Homo sapiens: one gene and its partner. The protein of the gene in region 1 purifies or fractionates together with the protein of each later gene. This does not show direct contact. Each region holds a gene or a part of one and is shown on either strand. Other genes may lie near its edges.

Evidence for each region.
Region 2: the proteins of ZNF274 (region 1) and DDX50 purify together in Homo sapiens (co-immunoprecipitation; one large-scale study listed by IntAct). This does not show direct contact.

What each region holds. Positions count from the first base shown.
Region 1 is NC_000019.10:58,206,835-58,210,851, reverse strand, and holds part of ZNF274 (neurotrophin receptor-interacting factor homolog), read right to left. Parts: coding exon 3,650-4,017; intron 892-3,649; coding exon 779-891; exon of another isoform or gene 422-778; intron 1-421. UniProt on the Homo sapiens protein: Probable transcription repressor. Specifically binds to the 3'-end of zinc-finger coding genes and recruiting chromatin-modifying proteins such as SETDB1 and TRIM28/KAP1, leading to transcription repression.
Region 2 is NC_000010.11:68,899,854-68,904,114, forward strand, and holds the start of DDX50 (ATP-dependent RNA helicase DDX50), read left to right. Parts: upstream 1-1,461; 5' UTR 1,462-1,531; coding exon 1,532-1,618; intron 1,619-2,202; exon of another isoform or gene 2,203-2,573; intron 2,574-4,261. UniProt on the Homo sapiens protein: ATP-dependent RNA helicase that may play a role in various aspects of RNA metabolism including pre-mRNA splicing or ribosomal RNA production.

The DNA of each region.
Region 1 (4,017 bases):
TCCCAGCTACTCAGGAGGCTGAGACAGGAGAATCACTTGAACCTGGGAGGCAGAGGTTGCAGTGAGCTGAGATCGCGCCATTGCACTCCAGCCTGGGCAACAAGAGTGAAACTCCATCTCAAAAAAAAAGAAGAAGAAAGGGGAGAAAGCAGAGCCATGAAACAGGTTGGCCAGAGATTCTTCCCATCACCTGGGAGCACCTGGATGCAGCCTTGCCTGAAGCCTACCAGAGAATACATGAGAGCCAATAAATTGACTTCTACGCTTGAGCCAGTATAAGCCATTTGCAGTGCAAACAGGTCTGACCAATGACACATACATACCACTACCCCAGTGGTCAGCGCATCAGGACCAATCTTTTTCACCCACACCCCAGCTCTGGGTTATTCTGAAGCAAATCCCAGATACCAAAGATAAATACCTAAGTATGCATTTCTGAAGGTTGAGGGCTCTCTTGTTCTGACCTGGATACAGATGTGCCTGCCTGTGGTAGTTCCACCTCTCAAGTCTCTGTAAACACTTAGTCCCTTCCCTCTTGCCTCCTGCTTTCTCAGCTCCCGGGTCACCATGCGTTGTCTCCAGTGATGCCACAGTGGCTGGAGGGCAGGGCTGCTCTTCATACTCAGATTGCTTCAGCACAGACCTAAGAGCTCAGAATCTCAGAATGTCCCAGCCTGTGGGAGGTCTTAGGAAAGCCCAGGGCAGAGTGGATGCCTCAGGGGTGGGCCTGCCTCACAGGAGATGCTGTGACCAAAACAGGGTGATACTCCCCGCTTACCTCAGGGAGCACTGTCACTGGGCAGATGGCTGCATCCTCCTGCTTCTCCTCCTGCTGGGCAGTGACCTCGAGGCAGCAGGTGGTGCCCTCGGCAGGTTGTCCTGCAGGAAGTACTGGGAGGAGACACCAGCCAGAGGAGGTCAGCAGGTGTGGGGACCCTTAGGCAGGGCAAGGGTGGCCTCTCTGCAACCCATGGGGCCACCGCACCCCTGCATCGTACTGTGGCTCCATGACAGCCTCTGCTCCTGTCCTCCCTTCCCACCAGCTCTGCTCCCCTCACAGCACGTGCCCGAGTGCCCACACCTGGATGGGCCCGGGATGGCTCACCCTCCAAGGGTCACAGGGCACCAGTGTCCTCACTGCTGAGACTCTGGTCCCACTCCTTCCCTTTCCGGGGGCTGCTGAGGGCCCCAGCCCCTCCTGTGAGGCAGCTGACTGACGCCCCCTCCTTAGAGTCAAAGCCCCTGTTTCCGGCCTCCAAGCCCTGCACCCTGCCTATTTGGGCACCTCTTCCTTCTTCCCTCTCTCCTCCCACCTCATGGAAGGTGAGACTTTCCCTGGACCCATGAAATGCAGCCATCTTGAGGTGAACGTCACCAAGTCTCCTCCACCTAAGAAAACAACAGCTCCACCTGGCCCAAGGGCCCCTGTAACCACGGCTCCTTCATTCTAACCTTCCTCACATGACCCCAAATGGTCCACAGGCTTCCACAATGCTAATCTACCCCCACCATCAAGGTGGGCCACAAGATGACTTAGGCTGGCACACTGGACCATCCCTTTCTCTTGGCCACAGTGATTAGATCTGGGATGAACACAGCCTATAGCCAGATGATTGGAGCCAACAAGGCCTTAGTTGGAACATTTGGGAAAGAGAAATCCCATGCAGGGAGACAGCCTGCCCATGATGAAGCCAGTGGAGGGCAGAAGAGGTAAGAATGAGGGACAGGACAAGTCTGGAGGACACTATTGGAGCTCCTGGGTCCAGCCCTGCCTGATGCTCGAGCACCCTGGAACTTTTCCAATAAATTCTCCTTCTCCCTTGAGCCATTCTGTGCAAGGCTTTGCAGCAGTCACACTCAAGCGTCCCAACTAACACACTGATCACATAATGTGAGATTCTCAGGGTTCTCTGGAAAGCCTCTTCCCATTGTCTTCTGTGGCACTAATTTATTTTATTCACCCCTGAGGTTAAACACAGGGTGAATTCACTGACTTTCACCTCATTAACCCCACAACTGTCTCCTTGGCACCTAACTAACTAGTTTCCTATTGCTGTTATAGTGAATTGCCACAATGCCAGCGGCTCAGATTAATGCAAATGTATTACCTTATGGTTCTGGAGATGAGAAGTCTGGTTTGTGCCTCACTGGGCTAAAATGAAGGTGTCAGCATGGCTATGTTCCTTTTGGAGGCTCCAAGGGAGAATCCATTCCTTGCCTTTTCCAGCTTCTAGAGGCTGCCCCAAACATTTGGCTTATGGCTTCTTCCTCTATCAGCTGCTCCTATCATTACATCTCCTCTGACCCTCCAGCCTCCCTCTCCTAAGGGCCCCTGTGGTTATGTTAGATCCACTCAAATAATCCAGTGCATCTCTCCCTCTCAAGATCCTTAATTGTTTCTGCAAAGTCCCCTTTGTCATGTGAGGCAACTTATTCACAGGGTCCAGGAGTCAGGACATGGACACCTTTGGGGCAATTATTCTGCCAAGTACAGCACCCCAGACTTGGTGCATCTGACACAACTCATGCAAGTGCCTGCCCTGCTGCCTCGGATACCCGATCTCCAGGATGCCCTGGCCTCTTAGAATCCCACCATCCCCCTGCAGGATACCTTCCCCTTTCCTGCAATCACAAACATCAACCAGTCAATCATTCGTTCACATCAGAAACATCTTCTGGGCACCCGTGAAATGTGGAAAATGGAGGTGAGCAATGCAGAAGCATGCACGCTCTGTGAAACTCAGCCTGATGAAGAAACCAAGTCTTGCAGTCTTATTCCCAAATACACACTCCACACGTGTAGTCTCTCCCCAGTCAGACATCACCATCACTCCTATCCAAGACACCACCCCATCAGAGGGCATGGCAATAGCTGCGGGTAGCCTGTGTCCAGCCTCGCCCCCATCCTCTGTCCACCATCCACCACACATGCAGCCTGGTAAATCTCTAAAGGTCAAATCCAGTGGTGCCACCAGTTTCTGGAACTCAGGGATCGAGCCCTACTGTTTTAGAAGAACATTTTGCTTTGCTTTAGGACTAAAGTCCCCACTGGCAGTGCCAGCTCCAACCTCTGCTCCCTTCCATCACAAACATAACCGATTTTTCTGAGTTTTGCATTTACTGTGATCCCTTCCATCTTGGCCCTTACAGGCAGTGCTCCCCTCTGCATGGCACATCTTTCCTGCCCCCTTTCTTTACCCTGGCCAAGTTCCACTCCACACCAGGTGTCAGCTGCAGACCTTCATAAGCCTCACCATCACCTCGAGCTCCTCATAGTCCCAGCATTTTTCTATGCATTCTCATTTGTCAAATCCCTGTCTCTCCTGCTACTGCGGGCTCTCTGAGCTCAGTATTCCCATCTATCTTATCAAGTGCTACAGGGCTTATGGTGCAGCAGGGATGCCAGAGGGATAAAAATGAAGCACTTCATCTGTGTGCTTCCATCAGAAGCCCACGAAGGGCTAAAGAATGCAAGGGTTTCAGTGGCTCTGACTCAGGAACACGTGGGCAACATGGATGTCCTTGGTCTGTATGGAGCGGACACAATCCTTCCCATGACCTTCCTAGGAAGCCTGGAGTTCTTATCTCCCCCACAGGGTACTCCAAGACACCCTCATTAAGCTGTCCCTCTACCCACCCTTCTACTTACCTTCCTCCTCAGACATCCAGGTCACACCCTCTACCAGGGCCACCACCTCTTGGCAGTTCTCTGGGTGCTGCGATTCCACCCATGTCCGGAGCTTCACAGGCAGTGCACCTAGGAACTGCTCCAGCACCAGCAGCTCCAGGATCTGCTCCTTGGAGCGTGCCTTAGGCTGTAGCCACTGGTGACACAGCTCTCGGAGCTGGTCCAGGGCCTCCCGGGGACCTGTCATGTCCTTATAACGGAACTGCCGGAACCTCTGGCGCGCGGCCTCAGGGTCACCTGGATGCTTGCCCTGCTGTTGGACCTGCTCACTGGGGGCATCTGCACTCAGGCTTCCATCTTCAGCATATAGGGCCTGGATCTGGGCATTC
Region 2 (4,261 bases), on another chromosome or scaffold:
AGAGATGCATAGCTATTCTCATAACCTAGGAAGAGAGGTGGATTTCTCCGTCATCAATAGCTGAACACTCCTTGTGTTTCTAAGTATTGAATCCATAAAGTTACATGCAAACATACAGCCCTTGCCTTCAGGCCAAGCCGTAGTTATGCAGAAGGCTTGAAGCAATCACAGATTTAACATTTGTGGTTCCAGCTATTCAGGACCAATTCCCAAACTCCACGACATGTAACAATTTGTAATTTTGCTAGGACACAGTTTGATGCTTAGGTTTTAAGGCTGGTGTGCTAGACGTTATCAAGTGGTTTGTGAGAGTAGCCCTGTGTCTCCATTGGGTAGAGTAGCTGGGTCGCAAGGATCATGAAGAGATGAAGAAATGGCTGTGAAAAGCCAACTAGCCTCGGTGATAGTAAGCAAAGGTATAGAAACACTAAGGAAGTTACCCTTTGTATTGTCAAAGGTTTCAGTTTTGTGTAAGGTGGTGATTCACGGGCAGTTAATCTCCATCACTAAAATTAAATCCTTTTTTATTCATTGCAAATAGATAATCTGTGGAAGACATTTTGGCTTTTCTCGCTAGCAGAAAATGTGAGGCTTCTTCAGGTTTTTCCTGTTCATTGTTTCACGGGAGCATCTTCCCCAAAACACTGCAAAACTCAAAGTTCTCAGGCTGATGTGGCAGAAAGAGCATTGATCTCGGCTTCAGGAGCTAAATTCTCTAGTCCTGACTGTGCCACTAACAGACTGTGGGACTTCAGACAAGTACATTCCTTTCTCGGGTTTCTTATGTCAAATGGACAGCGTGAGAAGGATCACAATGAACCAGGGATCAGCTTCACGATTAAAACCTAAGACTTAAGAGACGGACATCTGTCCGTTCCTGGCTACACCTCCGGCCCATCTGGCCCACCCCAAACTGCGCGAAGCCCCTCTCCACCGACGCCAGGCCTGTGGCCTCGCGCGAAGCTGTTGGTCGTTAACATCTCCCCCGCAATGGGCGGGATGGAGGGCTTCAGCTTCCGGCTGCAAATGGCGAGGCGGCGCGCGGCGTTGCCCACTGGCCTCGGCATGGGCCTGCCCACGCACCCGCCCAGCGCGCGCCGGACCCTGTCTACCGCCGTTGAAGGGCTTCCCAGCCCTAGCAGTGCGTACTGGGAAGCCCCCAAAAGGCTCTGCGAGGCCGAGGAGACCCGTTCGGAGTGGGGGAGGGGAAGATAAACCGAACTATTTATGTTAATCAGTGCATGCTTCCTTTATGGAGATTGGCCAGGGTTTTACTCTAGTAACCAATCACTTCAGAACAAGGGCGGGCCCGTTGATATCTCTCACACTCATTGGTTGAGAGGTTGCGGCGCAATGGAAGGTCTTAAACCGAGAGTATCCGGGATTATTTTTCCCCGCCGTGCGGTGCGTGTCCCGGAAGTGACGCATGGCCAAGGCCGGGCGGCCGCCTTGCCCCCGCTTCCTTTCACGCTGTCGCTGCCCGTAGGTGGTTGTGGCCACTGTGCCCGGAGGGAGGCGGCGGTGGCCAGTAATGCCTGGGAAACTCCTCTGGGGGGACATTATGGAGCTGGAAGCACCCTTGGAGGAGTCCGAGAGCCAGAAGAAGGAGAGGCAAAAGGTGCGCTGAGCATGGGCCGCGCCTCCTTTTGGGCTGCGCCGGCTTGGGCGGGGAGGGGAACTGTCTGTCCCTGATGATGGCCTGTCAGAACCGGGCCGGAGCATCCGAGGGCCTCCCTTCGCGCCGCCCTCGGCCCTCTGGGGTCGCTCAGGGACCGTTTCCACCTCCACCCTCCCGACCTGGAGAAAGATGGCCCTGGGCTTTGGGCCTCTCCTCCGCGTGGCCCCTCAGCCCTTCCCGTTGGCGCCTGAATCTCAGATGGGCAGACTCAAGCTCCCATCACCATGGAATCTGTTCTTTCTCTCCTGAAGCAGTGACGCTTGCCATTTCGTTTTCATTGGCCCTCTTAGAAGATGATTAAGAAAAAATGATTGCTTTGAATATGTGTTGCTTCTGTCACCCCGTCCCCTGTGCAAGAATCCTGGGGAAAGCGATCTTAGGTTTACAGACCTCAATAACTAGTCTGTAGAGGCTTAAGGAAAAGTGTCACTGAGACTTGCCAGGATTTGTCAGTGATGGAGATCGTGTGGGTTGCATTATTAATAGCCTTTACTGTCAGTATTTTCATTCAATCCGCAGGTGTTTATTGAACCTAATTTGTACCATACTCTTTGCTGAGTACCAAGGAGGTTAAACTAAATAAGTAAAGAAATGGTCTCTGCTCTCAAGGAGCCTGTAGAGGAGTTGTAGTCTTTCCTCCTCCCAGCCCCCTGCCCTCCAAAAAAAAAAAAAAAAAAAAAGGAAAAGAAAAAACATCCTGAAACACTCAGAGGATCACAAGGTGCTGAAAAAATGCCCAGGTAAAATTATTACTGGAGACATTTGACCTGGAAAAAAGAAATCAGCTGAAGAGGCTAAGGTGGCAGTATTCGAAGGCTGACATTCGACAAAAGAATGAGACTTATTTTGTATAGCCTTAGAAAGCAGAATCTACCTCTCTGACCTTATCACTAAGGTAAACTTGCCATTTCAGCTAACACTTTTATTGTGCTAAAATACACATAACGTTTATCATTTTAACCATTTTTAAGTATATAGCTCTGTGACATTAAGTATATTTACATCGTTTTGCAGCTGTCACCATCATCCATCTCCAGAACTTTTCATTGTCCCAGACTGAAACTCTGTGCCCATTAAACACTCACTTCTCATTCCTCTCTCCTTCCACTCCCGGCAACTACCATTCTACTTTCGCTCTGTGAATTTGACTACTGAAGTTACCTAGAGTGTAAGCAGAAAACCAAGCAGGTATTTTAAAAAAGGCTTCTTTTGAAATTCTTGTCTTTTGCATCCCAATCCTGTCCAGCGGTCAAGGCCTAGTTTATGTCTTTCCTGACAACCCGAATGTACCGTTATCTAGTTTCAGTGGCTATCTTCATCATTTGATTGACATTTGTTATGCATGTCTATATAAAATTAGTTCATTTTTCCTGTATGTATCCCACATATTTCCCAAAAGTTCTTGAGGAAAGTGACCAAATCTTTATCCATCCTTATGTTTCACTATGTTGTTTTAAATTGGTGGCTTTCACATTGTAAATTCTCCAGAAATACATATTGACTGCCCTTTAACTATGAAAGATAACCAGAGATTTGGAAACGAATTGGAATACCAACTAAAAGAAATAGAGCATTAGAATACAGGTCTGGTGGCTAGCTGCAGTGGCTCATGCCTGTAATCCTAGCACTTTGGGACGCTGAGATGGGAGGATTGCTTGAGCCCAGAAGTTTAGGTAGAGTTTTGTAGAGACCCTGTCTCTACAAAAAATAAAAAAATTAGCCGGGTGCGGTGGCTCATGCCTGTAATCCCAGCACTTTGGGAGGCTGAGGCAGGCAGATCACCTGAGGTCAGGAGTTCAAGACCAGCCTGGCCAACATGGTTAAATCCCATCTCTGCTAAAAATATAAAAATTGGGCCGGGCATGGTGACTCACTCCTGTAATCCCAGCACTTTGGGAGGCTGAGGCGGGTGGATCGTGAGGTCAGGAGATCGAGACCATCCCGGCCAACATGGTGAAACACCATCTCTACTAAAAATACCAAAAAAGGCCAGGTGCGGTGGCTCACGTCTGTAATGCCGGCATTTTTGGAGGCTGAGGCAGGTGGATCACCTAAGGTCAGGAGTTCGAGACCAGCCTGGCCAACATGGTGAAACTCCGTCTTTACTAAAAATACAAAAATTAGCTGGGCATGGTGGCACATGCCTGTAATCCCAGCTACTCAGGAGGCTGAGGTAAGAGAATCGTATGAACCCGGGAGGCTGAGGTTGCAGTGAGCTGAAATCGCACCACTGCACTGCAGCCTGGGTGACACAGCGAGACTCCATTTAAAAAAAAAACCCAAAAAACCCAAAAATTAGCTGGGTGTGGTGGCGCGTGCCTGTAATTCCAGCTACTCGGGAGGCTGAGATACAGGAATTGCTTGAACCTGGGAGGCAGAGGTTGCAGTGAGCCGAGATCGCACCATTGCACTCCAGCCTGGGTGACAGAGCAAGACTCCGTCTCAGAAAAAAAAAAAAAAAAATTAGCTGGGCGTGGTGGCAGACGCCTGTAATCCCAGCTACTCGGGATGCTAAGGCAGGAGAATTGCTTGAACCCAGGAGGCAGAGGTTGCAGTGAGCCAAGATCACGTCATTGCACACCA